2 linked regions of the Homo sapiens genome follow. The protein of the gene in region 1 interacts with the protein of each later gene in a pairwise test. Each region holds a gene or a part of one and is shown on either strand. Other genes may lie near its edges.

The links. Proteins that work in one complex are often made in the same cells at the same time.
Region 2: the proteins of PAQR6 (region 1) and CCR8 interact in a two-hybrid assay, tested with the Homo sapiens proteins (one large-scale study listed by BioGRID and IntAct).

What each region holds. Positions count from the first base shown.
Region 1 is NC_000001.11:156,245,257-156,249,313, forward strand, and holds the start of PAQR6 (membrane progestin receptor delta), read right to left. Parts: upstream 2,801-4,057; 5' UTR 2,701-2,800; exon of another isoform or gene 2,659-2,700; intron 2,377-2,658; exon of another isoform or gene 2,254-2,376; intron 1,501-2,253; 5' UTR 1,476-1,500; coding exon 1,425-1,475; intron 995-1,424; coding exon 867-994; exon of another isoform or gene 732-866; coding exon 526-731; intron 406-525; coding exon 279-405; intron 1-278. UniProt on the Homo sapiens protein: Plasma membrane progesterone (P4) receptor coupled to G proteins. Seems to act through a G(s) mediated pathway. Involved in neurosteroid inhibition of apoptosis. May be involved in regulating rapid P4 signaling in the nervous system.
Region 2 is NC_000003.12:39,328,360-39,332,508, forward strand, and holds the start of CCR8 (C-C chemokine receptor type 8), read left to right. Parts: upstream 1-1,349; 5' UTR 1,350-1,470; intron 1,471-3,958; 5' UTR 3,959-3,972; coding exon 3,973-4,149.

The sequences.
Region 1 (4,057 bases):
AGGCCGGTCACCATCGCTGTGCTTGGGGTAGGGGTCAGAGAAAGGCAAGAGGACTTGGGCAAAGATGGAATATCAGCACAGCCTGCAGCTAAGAAAACCGTTAGGGCATATGACCTCCTGTGTAAAGGACCACATCTGTATGTGGGGATAAAGGGTCTGACAGAGGAAGTCCTCAGTACATGGTCCCGATGCCTCCAGTGCTGTTCGAGAGCAGTGAGGTGTGTCCTCTCCTGTGCCTCCGCCTTCCCCGTCCCCACTGGAGGGGCCTGGGAACCCACCGGGAGTAGCAGGAGAGGCCGGTGCACAGGAAGGAGTTGAGTGCGGCGGCAGGCACAAAGAACTGGTGCAGGTGGCCGTGCAGCCAGGAGGCCGGCATGGAGTAGGCGGCATAGGGGAAGGCGCAGCCTGCGGTGAGGTGGGGGCGTGCAGCTGAGGCCTGAGGGGCGCGCCCCTATGTCCCGCGTCCCACCCCTCGCCCCGCTCCGGGACGCCCAGACCCCGCGCTCCCGCGCCTGTCCGGCTCACCCAGACTGTAGAGGCTGAGCGCGCCGTAGTCGAGGAAGTAGCAGATGTGGCGCATGCGGGGCGACATGGAGCTGAAGGTGTGCGCGCAGCACGACGCGAAGGGGTAGAGGCAGGCGGGCAGCAGGAAGACCAGCAGCGGCCAGTGGTACGGCTCCGCACGGAAGCCGGGGCCGCCCGCCAGCGCCAGGAGCCGCCACAGGAAGTACCTGCGGCGGGCGCGTGCTCAGGCCGCCGCGGACCCCCGCGACTGCCGCTGCAGCCCGTGGGCCTGGACGGTCCCTGCCCGCCTGGGTACCCCCTCTGAGCTCAAGGCCGCGGCCTGGGGCGGAGCCTCCCCTCACCAGGTGGGCAGGAAGTGAGTCCAGATGTTGACCGTCTCGTTGGTCATCTGGAAGGAGCTGAGGACACAGTCCAAAGCCGAGCTGGTGGGGCGGCGGTAGCCAGACATGATGCCATCTTCCCAGAACACCTAGGGTAGTGGTGGGAGAGGAAGGGCGTCACTGTGCCCGGACCCTTTCCCTCCATCTGAGATCTCTGGAAGCAGGGTCAAAGAGGCTGGGCTGGAGATCAACGTGGCCCCCAAGCCAAACTAAATCTGATCTGATGTTACCACAGGTCCCAGTACCCACAACCCACAAAACAAATAGGAAACCGAAGAGCCAGATTGGGGTGGGATGGGGGTGGAGCGCAGCACACAGGGCGCTCTGGGGAAGGGGACTCCAGATGGAGGGCCACAAGCTTGTTCCTCAGAGAACAGAGGAAGAGTCTCACACTGGAATGGGAGGGTAAGAGTTCGCCTGCAGGAGGGGCTGCCCCAATAGCTAAAAGAGAAGAACGTCAGCCCCTAGTCAGTCCTCTAGGGAATGGGGGTTGGTGGGTCAGTGGGTGGAGCCCCTCACCCGGGGGACCTGGTGGACTTGAAGAAGTTGGGGCAGCTTGAGACTGAGCATGGTGGCCTGGTACCTCCACGTTGACCTAGAGACAGAGTGGGAGGTAGGGGATCAGATAACTGCCCCCATCCACAGGCCCCTTTCACCTGGGTTCAGCCGCAGGATGGGCTGTGCGTGTGGGAGGCAGATGGCACCCTCCCTCCTGGAGCTGCTTCCTTCAGGCCTGGGGAAGCTGGTCCACCTTCCCCAGCCCTTGCACCACTTAACTCCAACCCCTGTTCTCCTTGGGGCATTCAGTCCCCACACTGAGGGGCTTGGCGGCCTCAGCCCAGCAAAGAGTGGCGGGGTCCTCCCAGCCGGGAGGCTGCCTCAAATAGTGATCCAGCCCCGCAGGCCCCAGTTTTTGTCTCAGGAAGAATCCTGACTCCTGGAGGCCAGCACAGAGACAGCCTGAGTACCACTCCCTTTCCCACCAGAATGTGCTTCGCCCACAGCGCCTGAACTGAGCACAGAACACTCTTGGCACTCCGAATCTCTGGAGAAGCCAGATGCCATCAGGTGGGACAAGGAGGTAGGGGGATGCCTGGCTTTTCTCTGAGGACTACACTTGTGCCCCCAGGAGAATTTTGGGGTCCCTGCCCCTCCTGAGCCCAGGTATCCCTCAGCCCCAGACCTGTGCACTGCCTCCGGGTGGCCGCAGCTCTGCTGCCCCGCCCGCCTCTCCCGGCACATTCCTTGGCACAAGTGGAGGGGCTGGGCCAGCTGGGCAGGCGGAGCCGCCCCAGGAGGAGGACTAGGACACTCCCCCCACCTCCCCAGGCCAAAACTTTGCAGCAACTCTATAACTTAGCCCCTCTTCTTGCCACCAGCTCTGCATCCATGTTTTTGCCGCATGCACTTTGGGGCTTGCACCAGCAGTCACTCCCCCAGCCTCTGCCCGAGATGGGTGCTGGAGACCCTGCTGGGCAAAGGCAAACCTGGCCCTAGTCCCTGCACCCCAGCAGAACAAAGATGGATGAGGGCCTCCCAGGGTATCCCTTGCTCGCTCCCACAAGTGGGATGGTCGGGGGTCTCCCCTACCCTGAGTGCTGCCCATCTATCTGGGGGAGGAGTGAGGAATACGCTGGGGTCTAGCTGCCCTCACGGTGCCTTCCCTTAGTAGTAGGGTTTGGAGATCTCTGGAGTGGAGTGTGTGCAGTTGCTATGGAAATGGGGGAGGGGTGGCTGGAGCAAGATGCTTTACCTCTATTTTCCCAGAAGAGCCCCAGAAGGTGAGCTTCCTTACCCAGAGCTTGGTGGGTGCTCCTAAGCTGGTGGGTCAACAGGCCCAGGGCTCCACGGGCGGAGTCCAAGGCTGCTGCCAGCCAGGCTGATGGAGGAAGAGTGGCCAGGCAGGCGGGCCAGGCCTGGGCGGGGAGTGGGGAGACAAAGGGGAGCCAGGGAACAATCCCAGCCTTGTCCAGCCTCCAGGGAGCAGCACGGGGTGGCCCAGCCCCATTAGCAGGCAGCTCACTCGGCCGCCTGCACACAGCCAGCTCCTCCAGCACGACCCAAACTCCCTGTGCTGACTGGCTAGAACAGGGTAGGGGCCCAAGGCAGGATGTGGCCATGGTGCTGTAGAGTCCCCCCGGCGACTCAGAGCAGTGTTCCCGTTCCAGGTTCTCCCAGCAGTTGGGGACAGCTCTGCCTTAGGCTGGCAGAGGAACCCAAATCCCCAAATGCAGAACAGATTTCAGAAGCCATCTCTCACCATGCTTTGCTGCCTCTTAGCACCTGGTGCTGCCTAGGGCTCAGAGCAAACTGCCTTTGGTAAATGTTGGTTCTATCATGGGGGATTCACCAGGCTCACCACCTCCCCCTCCCCCCCCCCCCCCCCCCGAATACAATTTGAGATGCCAATCCTTGCAGGACAGGCACTTGAGGACTCAGAGGCTGGTTTTTTTTTTTTTTTTTTTAAGGTGGAGTCTCGCTCTGTCACCCAAGCTGGAGTGCAGTGGCGCGATATTGGCTCACTGCAAGCTTCGCCTCCCGGGTTCACGCCATTCTCCTGCCTCAGCCTCCCGAGTAGCTGGGACTACAGGCACCCGCCACCATGCCCAGCTAATTTTTTTTTGTATTTTTAGTAGAGATGGGGTTTCACCGTGTTAGCCAGGATGGTCTCGATCTGACCTTGTGATCCACCCGCCTCAGCCTCCCAGTGCTGGGATTACAGGCGTGAGCCACTACGCCTGGCCAGAGGCTGGTTTCAAGGCTCACCTCCCCACCCCCTTGGGGAAGAGGACCCAGCTAGTGACAGCGAACCAACCCCAGGCAGCGATGTTGCTGGCAAGAGATTTTCACTATCACCCCTGCAAAGGCACCGCCTCAGTTTACAGTCAAGGAACTTGACAGTGCCTATCAAACCATCTCCAGGGCCTTCACTCAAATTGCCTGCTTCTTGTTCTGTTCCATCCACTTCAAAGAAGCCTTTCCAAAATGCATTTCAGGATGCCATCTTCAGTGCCCCACCCCCCAATGAAACTTCTGTACAGACAGGCACCAGGAGACAGGGATTGGGCTTGGGGGGTTTATTAAGTGATGCTTTAGTCTCAGTCTCTGCCAGCAACTGGGAGTGGGGTGACTCCACTCACCCCAGGATTTCC
Region 2 (4,149 bases), on another chromosome or scaffold:
CAAGTGATCCTCCCACTTTAGCTTCCCAAGTAGCTGGGACTACAAGTGCATGCCACCATGCCTGGCTAATTTTATTTAAAAAATTTGTACAGATGATGCATTAGTCCGTTGTCACACTGCTATAAAGAAAGACCAAGATTGGATAATTTATAAAGGAAAGAGGTTAAATTGACTCACAGTTCTGCATTGCTGGGGAGGCCTCAAGAAACTTATAATCATGGTGGAAGGCAAAGGAGAAGCAGGCACATTTTTCACAGGTCGGCAGGATGGAGTGAGTGCAAGCAGGGAAAATGCCAGGTGTTTATAAAACCATCAGATCAGATCTCTTGAGACTCACTCACTATCATGAGAACAGCATGGGGGAAACTGCCCCCATGATCCAATTAACTCCACCTGGTCCCGCCCTTGACACATGGGGATTATGAGGATTATAATTCAAGATGAGATTTGGGTAGGGACACAGAGCCAAACCGTATGAGATGGGGTCTTGCTATGTTGACCAGTCTGGTCTTGAACTCCTAGGCTCAAGCAATCCTCCTGCCTCAGCCTCCCAAAATGCTGGAATTACAGATGTGAGCCACCGTACCTGGCATCCAGCAGATATTTCTACTGCATTTCTCCAGGAATGAGTGGGTTGGAGATGAGGAGATTCTGGAACTTCTGTCATTTCCTCCCAACAATTCTGGGACTCATGTTCACTCTCCTGGGATAGGGGAAACTGACTTAAAGTGATTTTCAAATGGCATTCCTGTTGAAAGAGTTAATATATGTACATGCATACAACATACACACACATTTGTGTATGCTACATACCATGGAGGAAAGCCAGTCCTGGTATAAATTGTATAACTTCAAAATAATAATGGAATTATGATTTCATTTTAATACTGATTTCAATTAAAAATTTTAATAGACTATTTTTTAGAGGTTTTAAGTTTACAGAAAATCTAGGTAGACAACACAGAAAATTCCCATTAACCCCTGTATTAGTCTGCTAGGACTTCCATAACAAAATACTACAGGCTGAGTAGCTTAAACAACAGAAATTTGTTTTCCCACAGTTCTGGAGGCTAGAAGACCAAGGTGCCCACAAGTCTGGTTTCTGGTGATGCCTATTTACCTTACTTGCAGATGGCTGCCTTCTCCCTGTGTCCTCACATGGCCTTTCCTCTGAGCACCTGGAGGCAAGAGAGTGAGCTCTGGTGTGTATTCCTCTACCTAGGAGACACCAGTCCTATTGAATTAGGGCCTCAGCCTTACGATCTCATTTAACCCTCATTGCCTCCCTTTAGGTGACTAGGTGTGAGGGTGGAGCCCTCAAGAGACTGCCTTCTCTCCATCTGCTGTTTGTAGTGGGAGGATACCTCCAGAGAGGCTGCTGCTCATTGAGCTGCACTCACATGAGGATACAGACTTTGTGAAGAAGGAATTGGCAACACTGAAACCTCCAGAACAAAGGCTGTCACTAAGGTATGTGCTACAAGCATCCTTGGGGAAGAAGGGCATGAGTAGGCAGGGGCATTTTTATATCTTTAGAGGATAGGCAAAGGGAAGACCAAAATTTCAGAGGTCTAGCACAAGAAGTAAAATTTTTTTTTAAATCTTTGCATTTCCTCAGAGCCCACAAACATGCATGTGTCTTAGTGGCTGCCCATGCTCTGGCTGAGGAGAGCAAACCGTGCCATATTCTCTGCAGGCCTTTAGGAGAGAGTGAAAACTCCTACAAGAGTGGGAAGGTAGATAAGAGAAGATCCTTTATAATACCAGGCATCTGGGAAGATCTGTCCTTGTGCTGGGTACAGGGCTTCTATCAGGTAACTGAAGGACACCTGGGTGCTGTTCTTAAGGAAAGAAGCCAGCGAGCAAACTTTCATATGACTAAAGAAGTTGCTGGTGGGTGCCTGTAGTCCCAGCTACTCAAGAGCCTGGGGCAGAAGGATTGCTTGCGCCCAGAAGTCAGGGCTTTGTGTGAGATCACACCTGCGTATAACTACTGTACTCCAGCTTGGGCAACATAGTGAGACCCTGTCTCTAAAAAAATAAATAAATTGCTTGCTTGCTTGCTTGTGCTTTCAAATCATAGAAAAGTAGCAGAGTGGAGAGGGGTGTCTGAATGTAAAGCAAACAAATGCCTTGGAAAAATATGTCTGGATTGAAATTGCATTGAATGTATATATCAATTTGAGAAGAATTGTCAAGTTTTATAATTTTTATGTAACTGAATTGCATTTTTATTAGTTTTATTCCTAGTAATGCTAGTAATTTTCATTGCTAGTATAATTGGGATCATTTTTCTATTGCATTTATAAAGTTATTTTTTTTCTGGTGCTTAGGAAAGCAATTAAAAGAATAAACTGATGAATATCATGCAGATATATCTCTAAAACAATAAGCAAAATACAAAGGGAAAAACAATATATCATTTATGTAAGTTAAAACAATATATCATTTATGTAAGTTAAAACACACAAAAATATATATTGTTTATGGATATATATAAATATGTAAAAGTACAGGGGGAAATTGTTTGGAATGATACATACCAAATTGGTTTTAGTTGTTGTTTCTGTTATGGGGATAAGTTGTGTAGTTAAAGGGAACATTAGCTTCATCTCTATTGCATCAGAAATAAAAAAAGAAAGAGGGATGGAAGGAAGAGAGGGAATGAGGGAGGGAGAAAAGAAGGGAGAAAAAAAGAAGGAAGGAAGGAAAAAAAAATAACCCAAAGCATTGTGAGAATATGTTAGCAGCTGCTAATTCTAGGTGATGGAACTATGGGTATTTACATTTTCTTTGTAAGTTTTGGCTTTTCTCATCTCAGCTGACTCCCTTTGGTTTACATAACAAAATACAATAGACTGAGTGGCTTAAACAACAGAAAGTGTTGTTTAACATACTTCTAAAGGCTGGAAGTCCAAGACCAAGCTGCCAATGCAGTTGATTTCTGGTGAGGCTTCTCTACCTGGCTTGCTGATTTCAGCCTTCTTGCTGTGTCCTCACATGGTCTTTACTCCATGCACAAGGGGAGCAAAATTTCTTGTGTCTCTTTCTCTTCTGTTAAGGACACTAGTTCTATCAGATTAGGGCCCTGCCTTTTTTGGTTTTGTTTCTGTTTTCTTTTTTTTGAGACAGAGTCTCACTCTGTCACCCAGGCTGGAGTACAGTGGCTTGATCTCGAGTCATTGCAACCCCTGCTTCCTGGGTTCAAGAAATTGTCGTGCCTCAGCCTCCCGAGGTAGCTTGGATTACAGGCATGTGGCACCATGCCTGGCTAATTTTTGTAATTTTAGTAGAGACGGGGTTTTGCACTGTTGGCCAGGCTTGTCTCGAACTCCTGGCCTCAAGCAATCCGCCTACCTTGGCCTCCCAAAGTGCTGGGATTACAGGTGTGAGTCACTGTGAGAGCCAGGGCCCTGCCTTTATAACCTCATTTAACCTTTTTTTTTTTTTTTTAATTTTAATTTTTTTTTTTTTTTTTGAGACAGAATCTCACTCTGTCGCCCAGGATGGAGTGCAGTGGTGTGATCTCGGCTCACAGCAACCTCCACCTCTTCGGTTCAAGTGATTCTTCTGCCTCAGCCTCCTGAGTAGCTAGGATTACAGGCATGCACCCGCCATGCCCGGCTAATTTTTGTATTTTTAGTAGAGACGGGGTTTCGCCATGTTGGCAAGGCTGGTCTTGAACCCCTGACCTCAGGTGATCTGCCCACCTTGGCCTCCCAAAGTGCTAGGATTACAGGCATGAGCCACAGCTCCCGGTCTATCATTTAACCTTAATTACATCTTTAAAGGCCCAAATAGTCTCACCCACTCCAAATAGTCACACCCACACCGGAGGTTGAGCACTTCAACACATGAATTTGGGGAGGACACAGTTCAGTCCATAACATCCCCCTAATTTTTAAAAAATAAAAATGTTTTTAAGGAGTGAATGTCTTTTATGTGTCTCTGTGACCAGGTCCCGCTGCCTTGATGGATTATACACTTGACCTCAGTGTGACAACAGTGACCGACTACTACTACCCTGATATCTTCTCAAGCCCCTGTGATGCGGAACTTATTCAGACAAATGGCAAGTTGCTCCTTGCTGTCTTTTATTGCCTCCTGTTTGTATTCAGTCTTCTGGGAAACAGCCTGGTCATCCTGGTC